Regions from separate parts of the Homo sapiens genome. Here all the other regions are linked to region 2. Evidence: fine-mapped QTL for protein levels in blood plasma. A gene starts in region 2. Each other region holds a variant in brackets. All regions are shown on one strand. Distances are between the middles of the regions.

What was found. PIP is the chance, under the fine-mapping model, that this variant and not a neighbour inherited with it causes the effect. Protein levels are from antibody-based Olink assays in UK Biobank. Linkage for the fine-mapping came from a reference panel and not from the study's own genotypes, which makes the PIPs less certain.
Region 1: its variant is fine-mapped to the plasma level of the GFRAL protein (UK Biobank, PIP above 0.99).
Region 3: its variant is fine-mapped to the plasma level of the GFRAL protein (UK Biobank, PIP above 0.99).
Region 4: its variant is fine-mapped to the plasma level of the GFRAL protein (UK Biobank, PIP above 0.99).
Region 5: its variant is fine-mapped to the plasma level of the GFRAL protein (UK Biobank, PIP above 0.99).
Region 6: its variant is fine-mapped to the plasma level of the GFRAL protein (UK Biobank, PIP above 0.99).
Region 7: its variant is fine-mapped to the plasma level of the GFRAL protein (UK Biobank, PIP above 0.99).

Annotation. Positions count from the first base shown.
Region 1 is chr6:55,686,219-55,690,291 of GRCh38, reverse strand. No RefSeq gene overlaps it. Among named protein-coding and RNA genes, the nearest start is that of HMGCLL1, 110 kb to the right of the region's middle. The variant G/T (reference allele first, on the strand shown) is at 1,817.
Region 2 is chr6:55,325,745-55,329,817 of GRCh38, reverse strand. GFRAL (GDNF family receptor alpha like) reads right to left here and starts at 2,349. Exons shown (of 9, transcript NM_207410.2): 1 at 2,242-2,349. The coding sequence starts at 2,263.
Region 3 is chr6:55,343,719-55,347,791 of GRCh38, reverse strand. All of the region lies in intron 3 of GFRAL (GDNF family receptor alpha like), which reads right to left. Among named protein-coding and RNA genes, the nearest start is that of GFRAL, 18 kb to the right of the region's middle. The variant A/G (reference allele first, on the strand shown) is at 2,070.
Region 4 is chr6:55,352,410-55,356,482 of GRCh38, reverse strand. All of the region lies in intron 5 of GFRAL (GDNF family receptor alpha like), which reads right to left. Among named protein-coding and RNA genes, the nearest start is that of GFRAL, 27 kb to the right of the region's middle. The variant C/T (reference allele first, on the strand shown) is at 1,756.
Region 5 is chr6:55,505,814-55,509,886 of GRCh38, reverse strand. All of the region lies in intron 5 of HMGCLL1 (3-hydroxy-3-methylglutaryl-CoA lyase like 1), which reads left to right. Among named protein-coding and RNA genes, the nearest start is that of HMGCLL1, 71 kb to the left of the region's middle. The variant A/G (reference allele first, on the strand shown) is at 2,097.
Region 6 is chr6:55,617,743-55,621,815 of GRCh38, reverse strand. It overlaps a transcript of HMGCLL1 not described here. Among named protein-coding and RNA genes, the nearest start is that of HMGCLL1, 41 kb to the right of the region's middle. The variant T/C (reference allele first, on the strand shown) is at 2,033.
Region 7 is chr6:55,666,849-55,670,921 of GRCh38, reverse strand. It overlaps a transcript of HMGCLL1 not described here. Among named protein-coding and RNA genes, the nearest start is that of HMGCLL1, 90 kb to the right of the region's middle. The variant T/G (reference allele first, on the strand shown) is at 2,256.

The sequences.
Region 1 (4,073 bases), 360 kb before region 2:
ATCATTGTTGGACATTTAGGTTGGTTCCAAGTCTTTGCTATTGTGAGTAATGCCACAATAAACATACGTGTGCATGTGTCTTTATAGCAGCATGATTTATAGTCCTTTGGGTATATACCCTGTACTGGCATGGCTGGGTCAAATGGTATTTCTAGTTCTAGATCCCTGAGGAATCGCCACACTGACTTCCACAATGGTTGAACTAGTTTACAATCCCACCAACAGTGTAAAAGTGTTCCTATTTCTCCACATCCTCTCCAGCACCTGTTGTTTCCTGACTTTTTAGTGATTGCCATTCTAACTGGTGTGAGATGGTATCTCATTGTGGTTTTGATTTGCATTTCTCTGATGGTCAGTTATGGTGAGCAATTTTTCATGTGTTTTTTGGCGCATAAATGTCTTCTTTTGAGAAGTGTCTTTTCATATCCTTCGCCCATTTTTGATGGGGTTGTTTGTTTTTTTCTTGTAAATTTGTTTGAGTTCATTGTAGATTCTGGATATTAGCCCTTTGTCAGATGAGTAGGTTGCAAAAATTTTCTCCAATTTTGTAGGTTGCCTGTTCACTCTGATGGTAGTTTCTTTTGCTGTGCAGAAGCTCTTTAGTTTAATTAGATCCCATTTGTCAATTTTGGCTTTTGTTGCCATTGCTTTTGGTGTTTTAGACATGAAGTCCTTGCCCATGCCTATGTCTTGAATGGTAATGCCTAGGTTTTCTTCTAGGGTTTTTATGGTTTCAGGTCTAACATGTAAGTCTTTAATCCATCTTGAATTGATTTTTGTATAAGGTGTAAGGAAGGGATCCAGTTTCAGCTTTCTACATATGGCTAGCCAGTTTTCCCAGCACCATTTATTAAATAGGGAATCCTTTCCCCATTGCTTGTTTTTGTCAGGTTTGTCAAAGATCAGATAGTTGTAGATAAGCGGCGTGATTTCTGAGGGCTCTGTTCTGTTCCATTGATCTATATCTCTGTTTTGGTACCAGTACCATGCTGTTTTGGTTACTATTGCCTTGTAGTATAGTTTGAAGTCAGGTAGTGTGATTCCTCCAGCTTTGTTCTTTTGGCTTAGGATTGACTTGGGGATGTGGGCCCTTTTTTGGTTCCATATGAACTTTAAAGTAGTTTTTTCCAATTCTGTGAAGGAAGTCATTGGTAGCTTAATGGGGATGGCATTGAATCTGTAAATTACCTTGGACAGTATGGCCATTTTCACGATATTGATTCTTCCTACCCATGAGCATGGAATGTTCTTCCATTTGTTTGTATCCTCTTTTATTTCCTTCAGAAGTGGTTTGTAGTTCTCCTTGAAGAGGTCCTTCACGTCCCTTGTAAGTGGGATTCCTAGGTATTTTATTCTCTTTGAAGCAATTGTGAATGGGAGTTCACTCATGATTTGGCTCTCTGTTTGTCTGTTGTTGGTGTATAAGAATGCTTGTGATTTTTGTACACTGATTTTGTATCCTGAGACTTTGCTGAAGTTGCTTATCAGCTTAAGGAGATTTTGGGCTGAGACAATGGGGTTTTCTAGATATACAATCATGTCGTCTACAAACAGGGACAATTTGACTTCCTGTTTTCCTAATTGAATACCCTTTATTTCCTTCTCCTGCCTAATTGCCCTGGCCAGAACTTCCAACACTATGTTGAATAGGAGTGGTGAGAGAGGGCATCCCTGTCTTGTGCCAGTTTTCAAAGGGAATGCTTCCAGTTTTTGCCCATTCAGTATGATGTTGGTTGTGGGTTTGTCATAGATAGCTCTTATTATTTTGAAATACGTCCCATCAATACCTAATTTATTTATAGTTTTTAGCATGAAG[G/T]GTTGTTGAATTTTGTCAAAGGCCTTTTCTGCATCTACTGAGATAATCATGTGGTTTTTGTCTTTGGTTCTGTTTATATGCTGGATTACATTTATTGATTTGCGTATATTGAACCAGCCTTGCATCCCAGGGATGAAGCCCACTTGATCATGGTGGATAAGCTTTTTGATGTGCTGCTGGATTCGGTTTGCCAGTATTTTATTGAGGATTTTTGCATCAATGTTCATCAAGGATATTAGTCTAAAATTCTCTTTTTTGGTTGTGTCTCTGCCTGGCTTTGGTATCAGGATGATGCTGGCCTCATAAAATGAGTTAGGGAGGATTCCCTCCTTTTCTATTGATTGGAATAGTTTCAGAAGGAATGGTACCCGCTCCACCTTCTACCTCTGGTAGAATTCGGCTGTGAATCCATCTGGTCCTGGACTCCTTTTGGTTGGTAAGCTATTGATTATTGCCACAATTTCAGCTCCTGTTATTGGTCTATTCAGAGATTCAACATCTTCCTGGTTTAGTCTTGGGAGAGTGTATGTGTCGAGGAATTTACCCATTTCTTCTAGATTTTCTAGTTTATTTGCGTAGAGGTGTTTGTAGTATTCTCTGATAGTAGTTTGTATTTCTGTGGGAACGGTGGTGATATCCCCTATATCATTTTTTATTGCATCTATTTGATTCTTCTCTCTTTTTTTCTTTATTAGTCTTGCTAGCGGTCTATCAATTTTGTTGATCTTTTCAGAAAACCAGCTCCTGGATTCATTAATTTTTTGAAGGGTTTTTTGTGTCTCTATTTCCTTCAGTTCTGCTCTGTTTTTCATTATTTCTTGTCTTCTGCTAGCTTTTGAATGTGTTTGCTCTCGCTTTTCTAGTTCTTTTAATTGTGATGTTAGGGTGTCAATTTTGGATCTTTCCTGCTTTCTCTTGTGGGCATTTAGTGCTATAAATTTCTATCTACACACTGCTTTGAATGCATCCCTTAGATTCTGGTATGTTGCGTCTTTGTTCTCATTGGTTTCAAAGAACATCTTTATTTCTGCCTTCATTTCGTTATGTACCCAGTAGTCATTCAGGAGCAGGTTGTTCAGTTTCCATATAGCTGAGCGGTTTTGAGTGAGTTTCTTAATCCTGAGTTCTAGTTTGATTGCACTGTGGTCTGAGAGATAGTTTGTTACAATTCCTGTTCTTTTACATTTGCTGAGGAGAGCTTTACTTCCAAGTATGTGGTCAATTTTGGAATAGGTGTGGTGTGGTGCTGAAAAAAATGTATATTCTGTTGATTTGGGGTGGAGAGTTCTGTAGATGTCTATTAGGTCCACTTGGTGCAGAGCTGAGTTCAATTCCTGGGTATCCTTGTTGACTTTCTGTCTCATTGATCTGTCTAATGTTGACAGTGGGGTGTTAAAGTCTCCCATTATTAATGTGTGGGAGTCTAAGTCTCTTTGTAGGTCACTCAGGACTTGCTTTATGAATCTGGGTGCTCCTGTATTGGGTGCATCTATATTTAGGATAGTTAGCTCTTCTTGTTGAATTGATCCCTTTACCATTATGTAATGGCCTTCTTTGTCTCTTTTGATCTTTGTTGGTTTAAAGTCTGTTTAATCAGAGACTAGGATTGCAACCCCTGCCTTTTTTTGTTTTCCATTTGCTCGGTAGATCTTCCTCCATCCTTTTATTTTGAGCCTATGTGTGTTTCTGCACGTGAGATGGGTTTCCTGAATAGAGCACACTGATGGGTCTTGACTGTTTATCCAATTTGCCAGTCTGTGTCTTTTAATTGGAGCATTTAGCCCATTTACTTTTAAAGTTAATATTGTTATGTGTGAATTTGATCCTGTCATTATGATGTTAGCTGGTTATTTTGCTCGTTAGTTGATGCAGTTGCTTCCTAGTCTCGATGGTCTTTACAATTTGGCATGATTTTGCAGCTGCTGGTACCGGTTGTTCCTTTCCATGTTTAGCGCTTCCTTCAGGAGCTCTTTTAGGGCAGGCCTGGTGGTGACAAAATCTCTCAGCATTTGCTTGTCTGTAAAGTATTTTATTTCTCCTTCACTTATGAAGCTTAGTTTGGCTGGATATGAATTTCTGGGTTGAAAATTCTTTTCTTTAAGAATGTTGAATATTGGCCCCCACTCTCTTCTGGCTTGTAGAGTTTCTGCTGAGAGATCCGCTGTTAGTCTGATGGGCTTCCCTTTGAGGGTAACCCGACCTTTCTCTCTGGCTGCCCTTAACATTTTTTTCTTCATTTCAACTTTGGTGAATCTGA
Region 2 (4,073 bases):
AGAAGAATCCAAGACAACTGATTGGACCATGTGTACTACTTGCTGGGTCACTGCATTTGGAGATTAGGCCCATGGGTGTAGCTTGGTAACATTTTTCTTGCTGAGGGCTGGAGTGGAAATGGACATATCAGCTTTCTGTTTTCTCATGTGTTCATGGACAACCTCATCTAGCCAAGCCCTTGTACTCCTTATTTGGCTAGCCCAAAGAAAGAAAAAGAGGACTCTTTTGATCCTAGCACAAATTTACTTGGTCAAATCCAGTTTTCCAAAGACCCAGAAATAGAAATTTGAAGTCATAAACTCAACTTATAAGAAAATGGTATTTTATTTGCCATTAATCATTATATCTTGTGAAAAGCCCCTTCAAGAATCTTATAAGTGATAATATCCCAGATATATCATCAAAACTTCATCAGTACTTCAGAGTAATAATCACTTAGAAATACTACATGTTGTCTTCCCCAAATATGTTTTACTTCCTTTCACATTTTCAGTTTTTAATGTTTTACTTCCTTTCACATTTTCAGTTTTTGGTTGAACAAGCTTCTTAATAGATTATTTTATAGGATTTTCCACACTTCCTACTCAACAAAATATTGACTCAACTAAGAAAACCACCTCAATGATTTGGTCCACAAGAATCAAGAATGTATTACCTCTCCAAAATCTGTCTTATTCATTCCAAACTATGACTTGTGGTTTTGTATTTAACCTAGGATTTTTCAAGAATTTTCCTGTAATACTCAATGAAAAATAACTTCTATTTTTAAATTAATAAGATGGATAATGCTGCAAATTATATCAGTGTTTTAAAGATGTATGGGGCTTATTATCCTACTAAATGTTCTGAGATTTTAAAATTCATTGTTTTCCACATTTCTTTACCAACAGACATTTTCCTCATTATAAGACCTATTTAGATAATGTCAAACAAGCATTCTAAAAAATATAATATGGGAAATGTTGGTACAACATATCAAATAGTATAATTTTAGTTCTAACAATGTTAAGAAGTTATTTCCCTCCTTCATGCAACCTGGTGTCAAGTTAATTTAGAAGTAAAAGATGAAAATAAGAGGCCATTGCCTTTTCAACTGAGGTCATAATGAGTCTGTAATGTATTTTGTGAGCTTCATTATATTGCTGCCTGATCTATAAAAATTAAAGTTTCCTATATTTCTCTTTATCACAAAAAAGAACTAAAGAAATATTAACAATCTTTATAAAAATAAGAAAATATTTTAGGAATAATTACAAAAAGCAAAATTATGGAACAATGGAAAAATATTACTTAAACAAAAGAAAAACTGAAAATATAAGGGATTTCTCTCCTTCTTAACTTGTTTCCTTGACTTGATATGACTCTCCTTTTATGTTCGATACAATTTAAAGTAAACTTCTTTGCTTTCTGGCCCATAATTATGCCTTTATTCAAGTATATATTAGCTTAAACATAAAATGCCATATTTTTAAAATTACAATCTAGCTACAGTTACAATTATTCCTTTTCTGAATTCAGTTTATAGATTCTACCAAATGCTAAAGAAGATATAAAATATTCTCCAGTCACACATCTAGCAAATAGATTCATGGATTCTACATTAAATAAAAATAAATTATTTTTCATCAACATCTTATAATACATTCATCGGATCCAATACAAGAGAAGTAAGTCCACACTTGAGTTCTAGGTCATAAAAATTAATGAAAATATGAAGCATTCTGATATGGTGTTAAGTGGTTTTACTTCACTAAATTACTTCTAGTTAGCAAATATTAACACTGTAGGTAAATTGAATGTTTTAAATTAATCTTATTTTTGTTTAATTTCAAAGCAAAATAAATAAAATAGATAACAGTTTGAAATTTTTCATCTTATAACTTGTAAATAGATACTGGAAGGTTTTATTTTTATTTCTAAAAGGTTCTAACACATGTGTGAATTCCATTAATCCTAATAAGTAACTCAAAGTCATTGGGTCATTCTATACAATAAAACAGAAACAAGCTGAGAGATTAATACAATTTTCACATGCTGCATTATCTATAGAGTTAGAAATAAGTGAGTAAAAGTGAGTGTACATTTTTGCAAGAAGAATAAACCATGTTAAAGCATAAATTTGTAATTTACTTGGTACTTCATATTATAAGCCCCTGTTAAGCTTAAGTGTGATGGTATTCAGTTTACAAAGAATTAGTATTATGAATAATTCAGATAAACCAGAAGCACCATTCACTTACCCAAGAAAATAAACACTATCATGCTGGACAACTCACGGCAGTTCACCTGGAAAAAAAGGCAGATGCGTTTCTTCTGACAACTTTCTTAAGAGTAACTGTCCAGAATAAGGCTTCAGCCTCTGTGTTTGCTTCCTAAAGGCATTACCAATTCAAGTCAGCTTCCTATATCATCATTTCCTCCCCAGTGTTTCCTAAGTTGTGAACTGTTCTAATTATATTCAAATTCGATTATTCTCCTGAGGGTGCTGGTCTTGAATATTAGGATATTATGCCTCTAAGAAAGCCCATGAGCCAAATACTAAGAGAAATGATACATAATCTGCACGTTCATGAAAAAGGTTTATTTTCCTTAACTAAAATACAACACTACGTAAAAGCCTCCCAAATATGACCCAAAATTTTCAAAGACACTTGAGCATACTCAGTCTCCACTTGTTTAATTAGCCTCATTAAGGCAATTTCATGTCATTTGAGGATATAGAAAAGCTAAAAACGCATAATAGCCCTGGAAAATGTATGCAAAATCGAAGTTCTACTAGAATTAGCCTGATATAACTCAAACATACTGGGAAGCTGCTTCCCAAACAAAGAATGTTGTATTACATGTGCCACAAACCCCAGTATGCTTAAAAATTATGCCACTTCAGCTACAGTATCTGATACCTTCCAAGTACAGCTACAGTGTAAAAAACATACTCTTCTCAGTGATGCAGAAATTCTATGTTCCACTGGAAAGATAATCATCTACATTTGTGTGCATCACTTGACAACTATTTTTTTTCCTAGTTTCAATGAAGGGACTTATTTATCTTATGCCTTGGTTTGGCTACGCCCTTCCTCATGTAAACCTACAGCACATCATCTTTCTTGGGGTGTCATGAGACTTCTATTTCTAAATCACCTGGAGGCCTTTCTAGAATGAATGCTTAAAAAATAAAATGCTGCTTTGGCAAGAAATTAAGAAGAGATAGGGATGGGAGAGAAGTATTTGTGCAGTTACACCATTGAGTTTTTGATTGCATATTGTTCATGTTTATTTTATACCAGTAGAGAAGTTATACTATATTTTGTTTTCAGCAGGCATAATGAAAAAACACAGACTCTAGAGTCCAACAAACAAAAATTATAACACTGCTTTTCTCTATAGATCTAGATGAGTGACTTAGCATTGGAAGTTATTCACTCCTTTGTAAAATGTGTCAATTGTATTAATTCTTGCTGTAATATAAGGTATGTATATGAGGGGCTTATATCACAAAAAAATTGATTATATTACATTCACTGACTTAATTATTACATAATAGAAGGATTATAATATCATAAAATTAATCAATCTTTTCTTCTTTTCAAGGGATTGAGTCACTAAACTTTCCTAATGACTTCTACCAAGACAAGCTTAGATATAAGCCAACTTAAAAGGACTTAAACTAGGACAGAGTTGGTTACTACCATAGTTGAAGAGTCCGTGGGAAGAATTAATTTCAGGTGTGTTTTAAACTGTTTTCTCTGGGTCTAAGTTGTTTGTTTCCTCCTGTCTCTTACCTGCATTCTTCTCTACCAGTTCTATTCCCAGAAAGGCTATTTCCTTCTGGTGGGAAGATGGCTGTGAAGCCCTTGGCAAACATCCTTCTCTCTTAGAAAGCAGGGTAGAAAGTGTCATTCTTTTACTATTAAAGTTGCAGAATTAAGTCACATCAGTTCTAGATGTGTCAAGTGCCAATCAATTTTACAAAAGGAACTTACCCCATGTCCAGTATCATAGATACAGGTTGTCAGTGTAGTTGGCCCTTTTCAAAGCACAGAATCTGATGGTGCAGAAGGTGTGCATCACG
Region 3 (4,073 bases), 18 kb before region 2:
GAAGCAAGAAGAAAAATAGAAAAGTGTAATATCTGGGAAGCCTAGATTTTCTCTAGCCTCACTTCCCTGTAGCTCTTGCTAGTGAATCCTACCCATTTCCCATATAGATCATACCACGATATCATTAGAATGTGTTTATATCTACTTTTCCAGCTTTGTAGCTTCCAAAATATTAATTATTCATCCTTATAAAACATTTCTCCTTCTTTGAATTTTATGCTGTCGGGTTGTGCCTCCCTCTTTTCTTTTGTCAAATATTAACCTCAAAGTCTTGCCCTGATATTCAGCATCGACTCAGGTACTGTCTCAATATTCTCCTCTACCTCAGATCTTGTCATTGTGCTAAGTTATCTCTATGTCTTTTGGGACAAAACCATCTTCCACCCTTAATTCAGAATTCCTTAACCATAGCTCTTATGACCTTCACCGACACTCCAACTATGCCACACCAATGATCGACTTCTAGACCTGACATTGACATGAAGTTCTCTCTCTTTCAATTGCAAATATTACTTATCTTACTCGCTTCCAAAGCTTCACATTCTTGATTATTTCATGTGCACATATACCTCCAGAACTTTCATCTTTTTATTCACTCCCAATCTTAGCATCATCTCCTGGATTCATAGACTCTTTCCAGCCTATATCACTCACCCATTCAGATAAAGGAACAGTTTCTTGTTATTGTCTTTTCGTCCTTTCTTCTTTTACTTTCCCGTGATTCTCTATAAAACTCCAACCCTATAAAATTTTACTGAGTGGTTTATCTGCTCATTTATACTGTTTTGTTTTCTCACAGAAAAGTCACACTATCAACTTAACTAGCATCCCAACAAATTAAAAAATTAATTACCACCAATATTACAGGTTATAGAACCACATAATGTTAATGTTCAATTTCTTTTGGTGATATTTTTCTTCATCACTTACTTTGTTTTTTCTTTTTTTTGGGGGGGGGGGATTTCTTGTTTATTTTTTGTACTGATATCTAGGTTATTTCCACCAAGATAAAATTACATGTTTCTAATTATTTCAGTGTCTTGAAATTTGTTGATATTTGCTTTGACTCAACATATGGTCAACTTTTTTTTTCTTTTACTTTTATACTTTAAGTTCTAGGGTACATGTGCACAACGTGCAGGTTGGTTACATATGTATACATGCGCCATGTTGGTGTGCTGCATCCATTAACTCATCATTTACATTAGGTATATCTCCTAATGCTATCCCTCCCCCCTCCTACCACCCCACGACAGGCCCCGGTGTGTGATGTTCCCCTCCCTGTGTCCAAGTGTTCTCATTGTTCAATTCCCACCTATGAGTGACAATATGCGGTGTTTGGTTTTTTTGTCTTTGGGATAGTTTGCTGAGAATGATGGTTTCCAGCTTCATCCATGTCCCTACAAAGGACATGAACTCATCCTTTTTTATGGCTGCATAGTATTTCATGGTGTATATGTGCCACATTTCCTTAATCAAGTCTATCATTGATGGACATTTGGGTTGGTTCCAAGTCTTTGCTATTGTGAATAGTGTTGCAGTAAACATACGTGTGCATGTGTCTTTATAGCAGCATGATTTGTAATCCTTTGGGTATATACCTGGTAATGGGATGGTTGGGTCAAATGGTATTTCTAGTTCTAGATCCCTGAGGAATCGCCACACTGTCTTCCACAATGGCTGAACTAGTTTACAGTCCCACCAACAGTGTAAAAGTGTTCCTATTTCTCCACATCCTCTCCAGCACCTGTTGTTTCCTGATTTTTTAATGATCGCCATTCTAACTGGTGTGAGATGGTATCTCATTGTGGTTTTGATTTGCATTTCTCTGATGGCCAGTGATAGTGAGCATTTTTTCATGTGTCAGTTGGCTGCATAAATGTCTTCTTTTGAGAAGTGTCTGTTCATATCCTTCACTCACTTTTTGATGGGGTTGTTTTTTTCTTGTAAATTTGTTTGAGTTCTTTGTAGATTCTGGGTAGTACCCCTTTGTCAGATGGGTAGATTGCAAAAATTTTCTCCCATTCTGTAGGTTGCCTGTTCACTCTGATGGTAGTTTCTTTTGCTGT[A/G]CAGAAGCTCTTTAGTTTAATTAGATCCCATTTGTCAATTTTGGCTTTTGTTGCCATTGTTTTTGGTATTTTAGACATGAAGTCCTTGCCCGTGCCTATCTCCTGAATGGTATTGCCTAGGTTTTCTTCTAGGGTTTTTATGGTTGTAGGTCTAACATGTAAGTCTTTAATCCATCTTGAGTTAATTTTTGTATAAGGTGTAAGGAAGGAATCCAGTTTCAGCTTTCCACATATGGCTAGCCAGTTTTCCCAGCACCAGTTATTCAACAGGGAATCCTTTCCCGATTTCATGTTTTTGTCAGGTTTGTCAAAGATCAGATGGTTGTAGATGTGTGGTATTATTTCTGAGGGCTCTGTTCTGTTCCATTAGTCTATATCTCTGTTTTGGTACCAGTACCATGCTGTTTTGGTTACTACTGCCTTGTAGTATAGTTTGAAGTCAGGTAGCAAGATGCCTCCAGCTTTGTTCTTTTGGCTTAGGATTGTCTTGGCAATGCGGGCCCTTTTTTGGTTCCATATGAACTTTTTAAAGTAGTTTTTTCCAATTCTGTGAAGGAAGTCATTGGTAGCTTGATGGGGATGGCATTGAATCTATAAATTACCTTGGGCAGTATGGCCATTTTCATGATATTGGTTCTTCCTATCCATGAACATGGAATGCTCTTCGATTTGTTTGTGTCCTCTTTTATTCTGTTCAGCAGTGGTTTGTAGTCCTCCTTGAAGAGGTCCTTCACATCCCTTGTAAGTTGGATTCCTAAGTATTTTATTCTCTTTGAAACAATTGTGAATGGGAGTTCACTCATGATTTGGCTCTCTGTTTGTCTATTATTGGTGTATAGGAATGCTTGTGATTTTTGCACATTGATTTTGTATCCTGAGACTTTGCTGAAGTTGCTTATCAGCTTAAGGAGATTTTGGGCTGAGATGATGGGATTTTCTAAATATACAGTCATGTCATCTGCAAACAGGGACAATTTGACTTTCTCTTTTCCTAATTGAATACCCTTTATTTCTTTCTCCTGCCTGATTGCGCTGGCCAGAACTTCCAACACTATGTTGAATAGGAGTGGTGAGAGAGGGCATCCCTGTCTTGTGCCAGTTTTCAAAGGGAATGCTTCCAGTTTTTGCCCATCCAGTATGATATTGACTGTGGGTTTGTCATAAATAGCTCTTATTATTTTGAGATACATCCCATCAATACCTAATTTATTGAGAGTTTTTAGCATGAAGCGTTGTTTAATCTTGTCAAAGGCCTTTTCTGCATCTATTGAGATGATCATGTGGTTTTTGTCTTTGGTTCTGTTTATATGCTGGGTTATGTTTATTGATTTGCGTATGCTTTGAACCAGCCTTGAATCCCAGGGATGAAGCCCACTTGATCATGGTGGATAAGCTTTTTGATGTGCTGCTGGATTCGGTTTGCCAGTATTTTATTGAGGATTTTTGCATCAATGTTCATCAGGGATATTGGTCTAAAATTCTCTTTTTTTGTTGTGTCTTTGCCAGGCTTTGTTATCAGGTTGATGCTGGTCTCATAAAATGAGTTAGGGAGCATTCCCTCTTTTTCTATTGATTGGAATAGTTTCAGAAGGAATGGTACCAGCTCCTGTTTGTATTTCTGCTAGAATTCAACTGTGAATCCATCTGGTCCTGGACTTTTTTTTTGGTTGGTAGGCTATTAATTACTGCCTTAATTTCAGAGCTTGTTATTGGTCTATGCAGGGATTCAACTTTTTCCTGGTTTAGTCTTGGTAGAGTGTATGCATCCAGGAATTTATCCATTTCTTGTTGATTTTCTGGTTTATTTGTGTAGAGGTGTTTATTCTCTGATGGTAGCTTGTATTTCTGTGGGATGTATTTCTGTATTAAATGGTGATATCCCCTTTATCATTTTTTATTGCTTCTATTTGATTCTTCTCTTTTTTCTTCTTTATTAGTCTTGTTAGCAGTCTGTCAATTTTGTTGATCTTTTCAAAAAACCAGTTACTGGATTCATTGATTTTT
Region 4 (4,073 bases), 27 kb before region 2:
AGAAAATCTAAAATGGATAAGTGAATAAATTTGTAGACACAACCTACCAAGATTGAACTATAAAGAAGTCCAAATCCTGAACAGACCAATAACAAGTAATGAGATCGAAGCTATAATAGAAAGTCTCCCAGCAAGGGAAAACCTGGGACATGATGCTGAATTTTACCAAACACTTAGAGAGGAACTAATACCAATTCTACTAAAAATATTTCCAACAATAGAGGAGGGAATACTTCCAAACTCATTCTTTGAGGCCAGTATCACCCTAATACCAAAACCAGACAAGACATACCAAGGAAAGTAAACTACAGGACAATTTTCCTGAAGAACATTAATGCAAAAATCCTCAACAAAATCCTAGCAAACCAAATGCAACAACACATTAAGATTTTTCATCATGACCACGTGGGATTTATCCTAGTGATACAAGGATGGTTCAATATATGAAAATCAATCAGTTTGATACATCATATCAACAAAATGAAGGACATAAAACATGATCTTTTCAATTGATGCTGAAAAAGCATTTGCTAAAGTTCTCTACGTTCCTTCATGATAAAAGCCTCAAAACCAGGATATAGAAGGAATATACCTCAACAGAATAAATGCCATATATGACAGAGCAGACCAATAGCTAGTATCATATAAAATGGGGAAAAACTGAAAGCTTTTCCTCTATGATCTGTAATGAGACAAGGATGCCTACTTTCATCACTATTATTCAACATAGTGCTGGAAGTCCTAGCCCAGCAATTAGACAAGAGAAGGAAAAGAAAAGGGGGGCATCCAAATTAGAAAGGTAGAAAAATTTGTTTGCAGATTATATAATTTTATATTTGAAAAGACCCAAAGACTCCACCAAGGAACTCTTAGAACTGATCAACAAATTCAGTAAAGTTGCAAGATATAAAATTAACATACAAAAATCAGTAGCATTTCTATATGCTAACAGCAAGCAATCTGAAAAACAAATCTTCAAAGTAGTCCCATTTACAATAGCTACAAATAAAATAAGATACTTGGAATATGTCTAAATGTCCAAAAAAGACTAAGCAAATTAATTAAGCTACATCCATGCAATGGCATACTCTATAGCCATTCAAACATTTGAGAATTTTCTTTTTTTTAATTTATTCTAAGAAAAATGAGATAGATGTGCAGAACGTGCAGGTTTATTACATAGGTACGCATGAGCCATGGTTGTTTGCTGCACCTATTGACCTGTCCTCTAAGTTCCCTCCCCTCGCCCCCGACTCCCTAACAGACCCTGATGTGTGAATTTTCTTATATGCAATTATGGAAAGATCTTTAATCCACATTTAGGGAAAAAAAACAAAAACAATATATAGAGAAGTATATAATATGATGTCATCTGTTTTAAATCAATTAAATAATGCATACATATTTAAAAGTATTTAGAATATTTCCTAAGCAAATACCTTGTCATTACTTTTTTAAGTTAATATATAAAAATATAATGTATTATAATTTTCTGTAAATACCCAGACTTTTGTGAAATTGGCAAGACATAATCTCACCTCCCTGAGGGTGTCGGTACTAGAGAAAGGTAATTGAGAAATGGCCCTTAAATTGTTCTCTTTGGCAGTTAAAAAATAAAGGAATTTCAAAGCCCATCGTGAATTGAAAAATTTGGAACAGGGACAGAAATTGTATTTTAAAACTGAAGTGCCCTGTTTTGCCTATGTACAGGCTCTTCTGCAAAAAAGATAAGTATCATAAAGGGCTTAATATTCT[C/T]ATTGAAGAAGTGGTTTTCCATTTGGAGATTTGTTTTTCATCTGAATTACATTAACAATAATTTAATATAAAAGCTGGAAATCTCCCTAAGGCAAAATGTGCTCAGGAAAATGATAGGATTTGTCTTTTCACATTGACTACTAATATTATATAACATTTCCATCACCTCTATAAAGTACTGATTAAGGGACTATTTGCACATAGTGAAAGGAAATTGAAGACACACAGTCCTTACACTTGAACTAATCTAAGAAATAAATTACATGAGAAGAAATACATATATGTATACTAAAATATAACAATTAAGTGTACAATATTCAAAAGTGAGAGGAAGGGAGATGACGTTTTTTGAGTGCTTATCCCACTCCAGACCCCACACCAAACATTTTGAAAAGGTGGTTAAAGCTGGGGGTCCTTGTTGAGGAAAATCATCAACTCTGTGCCAGTCCATCTGAGAAGGTGTTGATACCAAGGGGAGGTTAGTGTAAGAGTGTGTGCTTCAGAGTCTATCACAGGAATTCTCAAGGACTATAGCAGCAGAGCCACCACTTGCTATTAAAATATTTTCTTTGATGTGGATGCTCAGAAATACCATGCTTTGAAGGTTGAATGCTAATGGCTTCCAGATAATTAGATAGCATATCGAAAGCCCTGGCACTGGAATCAGGCAAAGCTGGGTACCCATCTGTGAATAAATCTGATATTTTTATAGTGATTTTGCTATTGAAACCATGGTGCCCCTGGCCCTGGCTGGTTAAAATATTATTAGGTTTCATTGTTGATGTAGGAATATGATAGTTAGAAAGGCAGAATAGTAATAGTTTTAGTTCATTTGAGGTGAGAAAAGTAGTGTAATCACATGTGTTTGATATTTCATTGATTTCATATTTCATTGATTTCAGAAGATACCATTATTTTATGTACAACAACAATAACAACAAAAAACACCTGCTGGAACTTAAATTATGACAAATGTCTTTGTTATTGACCTTAAAAATTTATTTAAAATATGTCAGAGATGTTAAAATGTGTAAAAAGAAATTGCATCTTAGAATCAATGAAATGTAGTATTTCTCTAATAAGGATTTTTGAGATGATAAATGAGTTTGAAAAACCTAAATTGCATTATAAAAAGTATTTTGTCAATGCCTTATTCACTCAAGAAAAATAAATAATAAGCCTTAAAATAACTGACACATTTGCATGAAAAATTCTTGAATACAATTTTAAGAACCTTGATATCCTATAAGTTGACGAAATATGTCAATGCTCTAGGACTCTGCTTAGCTCTTTACCACTTATTTCATAGAATGTGTGCTATAGGGAAGCAGTTCTTTTTAACAAATGTTTACAAGATCTGGAACTACTTTGCCAGTTAGAGTGACTGAAAATAAGAGTAGACATAGTTAAAAAGCTAAAAGAGAGAATTTTACTAAGAACCTTCAGGAAGTTGATATCATTACTTTTTGTGTTTTTTTGCCAGTAGTTGAAACAAGGGGACAAATATGACAAATCACACACTAAGCCACCTACATGTCCGAAGCCCTAGGCAGTGTCCTTCAAGCCCTCATATGATATAGGCCTGTTCACACCCACTCAATTAACTCTCTTATCTCGCTCCTATTTCTCTCCCCTTTGCACACTCTACCCTCACTGCTTTTCTAAAATGCCACATACATGTTTTCCTAAGCACTGGCTGGTCAGTTTGCTTAATATCTCCTCTCTCAGTATCTACTGTTTGCCTAGTGTTGTTTGCCTTAAAACAACACATACATTTTTAATTTAATATCTGTCTTCTCTCTGGACTATAAGATCCATAGGCATTTGTTTTCCTTATTCGCCATTGCCTAGAGTAGTAGTAGGTGCTTGATAAATTTTTTTTGAATTAATAAATAAACGACTAACATTACTCCCCCAATAATTAAAGGTGTGAGGTTAGAAAGAGGAGAATGAATACATTTCTATGGTCATAGCATACATGTGTGCTAGGGATGTCCAAATCCTACTTGTATAGAGCATCCTTGACATAAGTAACTCCAAAAAAGACTCCATCTTAGATTTCATACGGTACTTTTCCAACAGGGACAAAATATTTTGCTAAATAAACAATACTGCATCCAACCAAATAAGGACATAAACAAGCATACTCTTCCACTATCGGTCCTCTCAAGAGGACTCTGTGGCCATAAAGAGAGTAGGACTTCAGCAGCTCAAAATGGCCATCTTACCTGACACCATCTTGCTGTCGCTCATAAGCACCCAGCATCTGCTGCCAACAATTCTCCCCACATCAGACTCTTCCTTGCAAGATCAATGGA
Region 5 (4,073 bases), 180 kb before region 2:
GTTCATTTTGTCCATCTCTTCGTCTACTATTTTTCTCACTATTGACTTTCTTCTTATGCAAAAACAGGGAAAACTTAATTTGGTCTTAAATGCTTCCAAAAGGGATTGCATTACATACAATCGTGAAGAATTCCTTTGATGAAAGATCCTCAATGTTAGGAAATTCTTCCTGTGTTTAATTATTTTTTTTAACTGATTCAGCTCTATATAATTCTCATCCTTTGAAATGGCAATCTTCCCACGTGCCATGAAGTCAGGGCACAGTATTCTCCTTTAAAACACTGTTGTTTCCCCCTTTGAGAGATAATTTATAACTACACACATTTATTCAAAAACTTGCAACCTACTTGCTGAATTAGCCAAACCACCTAGGTCACGTTGCATTGAGTGTGTCTTTCCTCTTCTCCTTGTCTAATGTAGAATCTCAGTATGGACTCAGATCCTGACCCTGAAGATAATAGCAGTCTTGTTGAGTGAGATAATGAGTCTCCTTATTTAGGGCTCCATTTTTAAGTACACTGTGACTAGTAGCTAGCATTTCTTATGACAGCATCAAATCCTTTCCATTGGATGATCTACCTCTATGGAACACTTGCATTTATAGCATCATATTCTTGTAAGTGGGCAGCAAGAAGCTGCCCACAGAAGTTCCTTTCCAAATTCTATTGTTCAACTGAGGCCTAGGTCTGGAAGAACAATTCAATCATCATTATGTACCACCAAAATATGGGACATAAAACTCTAAAAATAAGACATCTGTGAAAGCTATTTTCTTTCATACATATGGTTTGTTTAAGGGTTTGTACTTTTTAAGCTTTATATATTATTCTGGCACTGCTGTGTGCCAGAACAACACATACCCAGCAGCAGTTAATATTTGTAAGCTGGGTTTGTGCAGTTGTGTCTAAATAGCCTTCATTTAGACATTTTGAGGTAAGAATATGTTTAATCATTTCTCATGAAATTAGCATTAATACTTTTTCATTATTAAATATTCTTTTGCTGGATTATACCTTGCCATACCTGGGCAAGAAGTAGAATTTTAATTTACACAAGTAATTTCAAGAAAGTTAGTGGTGTCCCTAAGGTGTGAAATTAATTCAGCACGGATTGTGGTTGAATGGTATATGTTTATAGTCCATACAGTCACTTACAATAATTTAAAATTATTTTTAACATGCTTTTTCTTTTATTATATATGTCAATGTGAAACAAGGATATAACAAAGTGAATTTAATAAGTATGAAAAGAGAGTTGTGCAACATATTAAATAGAAAAATGAACATTTAGAAGTTTTTATCATGAGATTAACTTTACTATGAATTCCTGAAAAGTGTTTACAAATTTACTTTTATTTAGAAACACTATTCATATGAAATTAGAACACAGAATACCTGGAAGAAGTACTCTGAATAAAGTTTGGAAATAATAAGTATTCGATAAATTTATTTCTAATCTTATTTAACTTTTTCAATATAATTCAGCAGAAAACATAATCTTAGGCATTCTTCAATTAATTCAAAATTGAATCAAAAATTTATTTTAAAAATGTAATTAGGGATTGAAATGAGTCAATCTCAGAGCTTTACCTTGGAAATATCTAACCAGATTCTCTGAAAGCATTACTCAACATGTTTAGTAGGGTTACATTAAAATTAAAACAGTAGTAGTGGAGGTAGAGGTAAGGGGAGAATTCATGGTTCAAAAATTTGTGGACACCTGGACTAAACATGGTTATCCTTGTTAACCAGGCCCTCCAAATATAGGACTTCTTTAAACTAGGGCTGGAAGATGGCTGTTGTGTTGGACTGAGTTTCTCACATTTACTGATCTTTGGAATCCCTTTTTCACCTGTCATTTCATGTGGCCAGTGCTCTGAAATTCTCACTTCTTCACTCATCAATCAACTGGACAGAAACCCTAGAAGCTAAATATTTTGAGTGGGTAGGCCAAAAAAAAAGGTGGCAATTAAAGTTTTAGCACTATATGAAAAAGGCAAGATTAGTTTGGTTTCTAGTAGTTGAATTTAACATTGATGCTTTTTTTAATTGTTTTCAAAAGCAGACATGCTGTTGAAGTTTACAAAATAAAATATA[A/G]TGTGGGAGCTATGAAATGAAATGTCTTTCATATTGAACATAAGAGAACAAATTGCACAGTGATGTAAGTTTCAGGTCTCAGAGATTTAAGTGGATCATTAAAAATTTGAGAGCTTGGCTGGAGACAGAGTCAAAAGCCAGGACATACAGAACTCTGAGAAAAGTCTCTGAAACTACATTGGTTTAATTTGTTGAATAAAATAATATTTTGTACATAATCATGCTATTTAAAAAGACAGACTATTTTACAAATCTCTTCTAAAAAACAAACAATATAAGTCATCATAAATGGAACATGAAGTATTACCTGAAGTGTCCAGCCCAGATCATTGGGAACATATTCAGATATTGAGTTGGGTTTAGTTTGAGGGCTGGGGAAACAGGGAGTCTGCCATGCAGGTCCCATTTAGAATTGTCCCAAAGGATACTTAGAGTAGTCCCCCTTGTCTGCAGGAGATGTATTCCAAGACCCCAGTGGATGCCTGAAACTGTCGATAGTATTATAACAAACCCTATGTATACTCTTTTTATCCTTTACATACATATGTATAATAAAGTTTAACCCACAGATATAGCCTCTTCAGTAATTTTTGTATGTTTGAGTCCAAACCTATTCCTGAATCTGTGAAATGTCCTTTACCTGCAGTAATGGCTTGGGGTCACCAGTTTCAGGAGATCCCTTGCTGAAGTCTTACAGGTTCAATGCTTTCTGGTACAACACATGGTCCTCAGTCAGAACATGTTTTCTGTTCATGTCTTCCACACACAAATTTAATGTCTTTCCCATCTTAACTAAGAGCTTATCACATGCTGTGGCTGTGATTTTTGTAGTTTGAGGTACGACAGCAAAGCCAGCATGAATTTATTTTTTCCTTCACAATTCTATTGATAGGAGTTTTATATTCTTACCATAGATGTTAGCAACTTCATCATACAATATTTTTTTTTTCTTTTTAAGTTGAAAACTTTCCCCATTTTACTTAAAGGAAGCACTTTGCAGATTCTTTTTGGTGTATCCAAGTTGCCAACCTCACTATTTTTGGGCTTTGGGTCCATCATTAAGTAAAATAAGTGTTACTTAAACACAAGCACTGAGATACAGTTGATCTCATAACTGAGAGAACCATTAAGTGACTAATGGGATGGGTGCATCTACAGCATGGATATGCTGGTCAAAGGGAAGAGTCACATCTCAAACAGCATGGTATGAGATTTCATCATGTTATTCAGAGTGGCCCACAATTTTAAGCTTATGAATTGTTTATTCTGGAATTTTCCATTTCATATTTTCAGACCATGGTTGACTGCATGTAACTAAGACTGCAGAAAGTAAAACCTTAGATAAGGGAAGGCTACTCTACCAGTATGGGACTCTTAACACTTTTTCCACGTGGCTCTGGGTGGGGCTGAGGCCTTTTAATTAAAAATTACTCCAAGGATTCATCATTTTAAGAGGAAAAAACACAAAGGATCAAATGAAGTAGTTTATCAATTAGAGTGGAAAGACAAATAGAGCAAAAAGGTATAGAAAGTTTCAAAAGGTATGGCAGAAAATAAGATCAAGGTAAAGATAATTTAAAAGTCAGTCTGAACCAGTCTCTATGTCTGGCTTCCCGGGTCTGAGCTTGTAGTTAGTGTGGGAATCTGAGCTTGACACAGGAAGCTTTCTCATTGTAAACAGCTCAACTGATGTAGTAGAAAGACCCAGCCTTCAAGTTGGACAGACAGTTTGGTTTTAAAGCCTAGTTCAGCAGTTTACTCTATTTGTATTCTGCAACCTATTTAATTTACTTGAGGCTCAGGTTTTCCATTGGTGAAATGGATTTATTGTGGAGATTACAAAATTTTAAGCAAATGTCTAGCCCCACATATGTTTAAATATTTTACGTGGCAACTTTTCCAAGGATGAATTGCTGAAGGAGGTTATGCCATTTTCTTTAAAAGAAAACCCTAAAATATTCTAACTTGAATACAAAT
Region 6 (4,073 bases), 290 kb before region 2:
AAAGCCTGTCCTCTAAGACCTGGAATATAACGATGATGGACTGGTGTGAGGGGAATGGTTTTGGGATGATTAAAGAACAGTACATTTATTGTGTACTTTATTTCTGTTATTATTATACTGTAATATGTAATGAAATAATTATGTAACTCACCATAATGTAGAAACAGTCGGAGCACTGAGCTTGTTTTCCTGCAACTAGATGGTCCCATCTGGAGGTGATGGGAGACAATGACAGATCATCAGGCATTAGAGTCTCATAAGGAGCACGCAACCTAGATTGCTCACATGGGCAGGTCACAGTAGGGTTCATGGTACTATGAGAATCTAATGCTGCTGCTGATCTGACAGGAGTTGGAGCTCAGGCGGTAATGTGAGCAATGGGGAGCAGCTATAAATACAGATGAATCTTTGCTCACTCACCCACCACTCACCACCCGTTGTGTTGCCCAGTTTCTAACAGGCCATGGCTCCCATCCATAGCCCAGGGTTTGGGGAGCCCCTACTATAAAACAGTCATGCAAGAAACTGAAAAGAATACCAAAAATGAAAACACTTTCATGTTAAAGTATTGGAATAATCAATGTTGTTAAAATGTCCATAATACCCAAGGCCATCTACAGATTCAGTGCAATCTCTATCAAAAGACCAATGACATTCTTTCACAGAAATAGAAAACAAATTCTTAAATTTATATGGAACCACAGAAGACCCAGAATAGCAAAAGCCATCCTGAGCAAAAAGAATAAAACTGGAAGAATCACATTACCTGAGTTCAAATTATACTGCAGAGTTCTAGTAACCAAAACAGCATGGTAGTGGCATAAAAACAGACCTATAGACCAATGGAAAAGCACATGGAACACAGAGATAAACTTACACATCTATAGTGAATTCATTTTCAGCAAAGGTATCAAGAACAAACATTGGAGAAAGGACAGCTTCATCAATAAATGGTGCTGGGAAAGCTGGACAACCATATGGAGAAGAATAAAACTAGACTTCTTTATACATATAAAAATCAAATCAAAACAAAACAAAAATCAAATCAAAATGGATTAAAAATTTAAATCTGAGACCTGAAATCATAAAACTACTAAAAGAAAACATTGGAGAAACTTTCCAGTACATTAGTCTGGGCAAATTGTGTGTGTGTGTGTGTGTCTGTGTGTCTGTGTGTGTGTGTGTGTGTAACACCCCAAAAGCACAGGAAATCAAAATAAAAATGGACAAATGGGATATTTTAAGTTAAAATGCTTCTATAAGCAAAGAAAATCATAATAATCCAAGTAAAAATGTACAAAAGGCTCAAATAGGCATTTCTCAAAAGAAGATATAAAAGGTAAACATATACGAAGAAGTGCTCAACATTATTGATTATCAGAGAAATGAAAATGAAAGCTACAAAGAAATATAATCTCATCCCAGTTAAAATGGCTTCTATCCAAAAGACAGGAAATAATAAATGCTGGCAAATATATGGAGAAAAGGGAACCCTGGTACACTGTTGGTGGGAATGTAAATTAGTACAGCCACTGTGGAGAAGAGTATGGAGGTTCCTCAAAAAACTAAAAGTAGAACCACCATATGATCCAGCAATTCCACTGATAGGTATATTGCCAAAAGAGAAAAAAATATCAGTGTATCAAACATGGGAATATCTGTACTCCTATGTTTACTGCAGCACTATTCACAATGCTCAAGATTTGGAAGCAACCTAAGTGTCCATCAACAAATGAATGGATAATAAAAAAAGGAGGTACTTATACACAATGGAGTACTCTCAGAAAAAAGAATAAGATCCCGTTGTTTACAACAACATGGATGGAAATGGAAGTCATTATGTTAAGCGATATAAGCCAGGCACAGAAAGACAAACCTCACATGTTCTTAATATTTGTGGGAACTAAAAATTTAGGCAATTGAACTCATGGAGATAGAGAGTAGAATGGAGGCTGGGATGGGTAGTGGAGCGGGGGCGGTGTGGGCATGGTTAATGTGTACCTAAATATAGTTAAATAGAATGAGTAAGATC[T/C]ACTATTTGATAGCACAACAGAGTGACTGGAGATAACAATAATTTATAGTTCATTTAAAAATGACTTAAAGAGTATAATTGGAATGTTTATAATAGAAAGAAGTGATAAATGCTTGGGATAAGTACCCTATTTTCCCTGATGTGATTATTATACATAGTACGCCTGTATCAAAATATCTCACATACCCCATAAATATATACACCTACCACATACCCATAACAATTAATTTTTTTTGGAAAATAAGTATTTATTAACTTCTTGGTTTGTTGAAGAACCAAATAAATATAATTGACTAATTTTAAATATAAGTAGTCAACAGAACCCCCCTCCCATGTGCCACTATTGTTATTTCATTATGAATTTGAAATATGCGAAAAGGCATTAGAATCAGTAGTCTTATTAACTCTGCAGAAACAGTTTATGGTAAAAACAAAATCGTATTTAGATGCCATTTTATGAGGAATGTGAATTTAATGCTTTTACAGCCTGATTTTTTTATATAATTTTTTTTCACTACAATTTCACATGTATTCAACTTCGTAACACATGAGTGCACAGACCAAACATGAAAGTTCTTTTTCATGCCCCTGCACATGTTCCAAATTCATCCATCTGATAGCCTACCAACTTCATCTTCTTTTTGATCCCTATCTTTGACCTCTCCCTCTTCCCACCCCAGTTTTGCCTGCTTGCTCTGGAGGCCTGCTGACAATTTCTACCATCCAGGGATGGGTCCATTGTTTCCTGAAATCCGTGTTTTTCCTCCTTTTGTTTTTTCTTGTGTTTGGAGCAAACACCTCCTTTAGTAACTTCCTAAGAAAAGTTGCATGAACAGTAAACACTTTAAAATCTCACATGCCTGAAAATGTCATTAGTCTCCTCTCACACTTGATAACTAAGTTCACTAGGTGTAAAATTTTAGTTGAGAATCATTTCCTTTTAGAATGTTTAAGGTGTTTAGCTTTTGGTTCTTTTTAACTTTCAATGATTTTTAGCTTTTAAATTTCAGTAAAATCTCTTAGTTAACAAAATTGCTAATAATGTAACTAAAAAGTTACTTTTAACAATCTTATAACATACTTACTGCAGATACTTTGCATATAGACTCTTTCTTTTCTTTTCCTCTTCTCTCTGTAAGCTCTTAAGATATTGTCTTTGTTTCTAGAATTCTAAGTTTACAAATCATAGTACCTGTGTTGGCCTTTTTAAAACTGTTGTGCTGTAATATGGAAATTCATGTTCCTAACTTCTAAAAATACATTGAATTATTTTTTTGATAATTTCTTCTCTATTTGTTCTCTCTGACATGTTTATTATTCATATCCAAATACATTCTCAAAATTTATTTTCTCTTTTTTCTTTCTTACTAGAAGTCCACTAGAGAATAATTTTATTAATGATTTGCTCTATAGGCCACCATTTGTTCAAAAGGTCACTTTTTTTTTTTACTTTTTTTGGTGAACTACAACATACATACAGAAGAGTAAATAAAATATAAATGTACAATTAACAGCTAATTATAATACAAATGCCCACATAATATCTCCCAGGTCAAGCAATAGAACATTACCAGACCCCAGACGTTTCCAGTATGTCTCTTACCAATTATAACATCCTCCCTTCCCATTATCCTGATTTTTATTATAATTACTTCCTTGTTTTACACTATATTATAGTTTCATCACCTATGCATGCATTCCTAAAAATCATGATTTCACTTGACTAAATTTTGGTCTTTATATAAATGCAATCATACTACATGCATTATTTCGAACTTGCTTCATGTGTATATTATAGTTATAAAAATCCACGTTCCTTATAACTATGTTTTTTTATTGCTGTGTAATGTTCCATTGTATGAACATAGCATAATTTATTTATCCATTCTACCTATGATGGATATTTGGGTTGGTTCACACATTGAACAATTATGAGCCATCCTGCTGTGGACCTACTTGTACATATATTCTTGGGCATATGTGCATTTGTTTCCCTAGGGCATGGAGCTCTCTAGAAGGGGAATTGCAAGGATGCACAGAG
Region 7 (4,073 bases), 340 kb before region 2:
TGAGTTTGGTTGGGTCATGCTTTGTATTCACTCATAATCTCTGTTGCAATTTGTTTGTTTAGATTATTTACATATAATGCAATTATTGATGTTGCAATTATATACAATGCAATTATTTGTTTATTAGCAAGTGATTTTATTATTTACTTTCTGTTGGTTCCTACTTTTTTTATATGTTTCCCCTTTTCTGCCTTCCATTTGTAATTTTCATAATGTATCTTTTTACAATGTTTTATAGTGGTTGCCCAAGGATTATAAATCCATACTAAACTATTAACAGTCTATTAAGAATTTGTATTTTACCACTTCAGTAGGAATATGGAAACATAACTATATAAATTCCTTTACATTCCCCCTTTATGATGTAGGTATCTTATTCATTACATCTACATATATTGACAATCCTAACAATGTTATGTTCTTTGCTTTCAAGCATCGAATATATTTAATAGACCTCAAATGGAATAAAAATGTAACATAACTCAGATGTTTACCATTTTGTTGTTACTTGTTTATTCATGGTATTTTCTTCTGGTATAATTTCTGTTTTGTCTGAAGTACTTTTTTTTAACAATTCTTTATTAAATAGCAGGCCTGCTGGCATTGAATTATCTTAGTTTTCCTTCATCTGAGAATATCTTTATTTCTCTTTCATTATGGAAGGATATTTTTTTTGGAGATAGAATTCTGGAATGACAGTTCTCTTTCCAGGCTGAAGAAAAATATTTTGTGACACCTGTCTGACCTCCATGGCTTATAATAAGAACTCCATAGTCATTCACATATTTCTGCTCCTATAGGGTCATGTGTCTTTTTGAGTGTGTGACCATTTTCAAGAATTTTTCTTTGTATATAGTCTTCAGTATTGTCATTATGATGAATCTGAATGTGAATTTCTTAGGATTGATTCTATTTGTAATTTAACTTCCTAAATCTGTGGTCATATGTTTTCCACCAAATTTAGAACATTTTTAGCTGTTACTTTTTCACATTTTTAAACCTCTAGAGTCTGTTCTCTCCCGGGACTTCAACAACATCATTGTTAAATATTTGCTGTTGCTCCACATTTCCTTGAGGCTCTGTTCATTTTTTAAAAATCTTTCTTCTACCTTTTAAGATTAGACAATTTCTATTGATCTACCTTCAAGTGTTTTGGCTCTTTCCTCTGTCGTTTTCATTCTGCTTTTTAATCTATCCAGTGAGCCTTTAATTTGGGTTATTGAATTTTTCATTTCAAAAACTTCCATTTGATTCTTCTTTGCCTCTTTTATTTATTTGCTGATACTTTGTAGCTTAATATTTGTTTCAAGACTTCGTGATGGCTTTTTTGAACATTCTTATAATAGGTATTTTAAAGCCTTTTTCATCTGTGTTATCTTGTTATTGGTGTCTATTGATTGTATTTTACCATGTAATTTTAGATTATTTTTTTCTTCATAATCCAAGTAATTTTGGATTACATACTGGGCATTTTGAATATTGTGGGGCTGAGTCTTGTTTAAATCTCATGGAGAAAGTTGATGTTTTTTAGTTCAGCAGGCAATTGACTGGTTTGGCTCAGACTACATGTATCAACCCAGCTTTTGTAAGCTGTTTCCAAAGTCAGTTTAATTGCCAAAGTTGTTGCAGTGTTATTCAAATTTGTTTCATGTGTACATCATTCACTGTTCCATGTGGGACCTGGAAGGAAATTGATCCATTTATTCAGTTGGCGAAACTTTTGTATGCTACTAATGATAGATCCAGGCATGTTCAGGTTGACAGTGACTCCAGGAATTAATAAAACATTTCTTTTTTTTTTTTTTTAATTCCTCCTTCTCTACTGTTTTCTTGGAACTTTCTGGTTTCCACAGGCTCTAGTTGTTGGTACTTTGGCCAGAAATTGTCCACTTCTATTACTGTGCGAAGTCTGAGGCCATGTGGTAGGAGGACAGGGAGAAGAGGAAAAAAGAAATGGGTTAGTCCTCACCCTTTTGAAGACACAGCTCTACCAAGTGGAAAGGAAGGTTTCCCTCCCTGGAGTTGTATACCCTACTGATTCCTGTTGCTGGCCACTACTGGTGCTGCTGCTGTGGTACCAGTGAATTGCCTGGGGGATAAGTCATGAGCGAATACAGGAAAAATGAAAGAAAAATAACCACTTGGCTGATTTCCTCTACTTTCTCTGAGATCTGGCAGTTTCCTTCCCTGTTCCCTGAGCCAGGCTTCTCTTAAAGCTCGCTCTTTAACACAATGTTCACTTCCGGGTTTTTGGC[T/G]GCCTTGAGTTCAGGTCAAGGATATTAAAGGAAAAAAATGTAAACTCACCACAGGCTTAGTGGTGATTAGAATTCTGGTATCTTTTCTTTATCCACATATTGCTATTTCCTTTTCAGACTCCTCATAGTCCAGTACATTCAATCTGCCTAGGTTTTATAGTTACGTAAAGTGAGAGAGATGGGATGGGATGTGATGTGTTTACTTTATTTTACCCAGAACCAGAGCCCCTAACTTACAGTTCTTAAACATAAGCAATAGAAGCTGACTCTGGCTGATAAAGAAGAAAAGCTTTTAAAAGGTTATTGGGTAATTTACAGAAGTTTTGAGAGTGTTAAGAACTAGCCGGAAGGCTATATTTTAGGGACAATTCTGTTAACCCTGTCACAGATCCTGCTGGATCAGGGAACACCTGCTACAAGAACAAAGTTGGCATTTGCCAGAAACTCAGCTTTCTCACAACAGCCATGCTGTCAGCAGTGATTCCATCTCCAAAGCCAGAACTCAAACATCCATTTTAGCCCGAAATGCCTTCTTGCTCAAGTCACTCACATCTAAATGAAAGTGTCTCATAGGTGAGTTTAATTTGTACAATCCAAGTCATGTACTTATATTTTTAACAGTGACAGTGTGCCATAGAAGTGAATTCTCTGGGCTCTACTTCATGGAGGAAAATTCCCCAAGCATAGTCAGGGCATTCAAAAGGTATTGGGCAACCAAGAAACATAAAAAACATAAAACAACTTAAAAATCAAAAAATAAAAAAAAAAGTCTGTTGCATTTAGTGTATATTGTATAAGAAATGCCGGTCCTGATTTATTTACTAACAATATGTGATCTATTATGCTAGGAAAAGCATTCATCTGTTCATATTCCTAGAAAGTTTAGTAAAATTAACAGGTATTTTACGTGTTTTGATTGTGGCATTGAACATTGGTAGATAAGGAAAATATTTTATAGATAATGTTCTCTCCAGTTGTGCTTAGAATTTATAATGTTATATATGTTTCCTTTTTATGATTCTGTGCTATAAACAAATCACCACCACCACCAACAAAGCACAAACTGGCTTCTTTCCCTCTGAAGTATTTATGTCTTAATGTGTAGAGTACAGAACACAGACTCTGATGTGAAAAAGCCTCCTTTGTACCGTTTCTTGTCACTTATTAGCTGAGTAGGCTTGGATAAATTACTTAGCTTCTCTGCATCCAGGATTCTTATCTTTGAAATGAGGGTGATAATATCCGTTCCAATCCTATAGAATTACTGAGAGGATTAAATGAGGTAAATGTAAACCCTGGTACATAGTACACACTTGGTAACTTCAGCTATGCTTAGTATTATTAATTTTTAATATGTCAATAAAATAGAGTCATTTATTTTTGCCCTCTAAGATAATCAAAAGTATCTTCAATGTTGAGTAGAATGAAAATTACTTGTTACAACCAATGAATATTTTGTGATTTGTGATGCACTCTTTGCAAGTGATTCATAAATTAAAGGGCTTCTCAATGCTAAATATTGTCCACCTTCTTGTATGTGGTGGACTTAGAAGGTAATTAGAATCTGGAATATCTCTACTGGAAACCCACTTATGCTTCTTTTCAAACACAAGATACAATGCTCTTCAAAGTTAAGAAGGCCGGGCAAAGGTCAATGGAAACTCATGAGTTTTACAACCTAGTCTGTTTAAGAACATGATGTGCAGGAGCCCAAACTTTTGAAAAAAAAAAATAAAAGATTGTGAGTGTTTCCTGGCTTCTATGTATAATGTTGTAAAAGAGACTCAGTTGCGATGTCTTTTGGTACTCTCCTCCCAT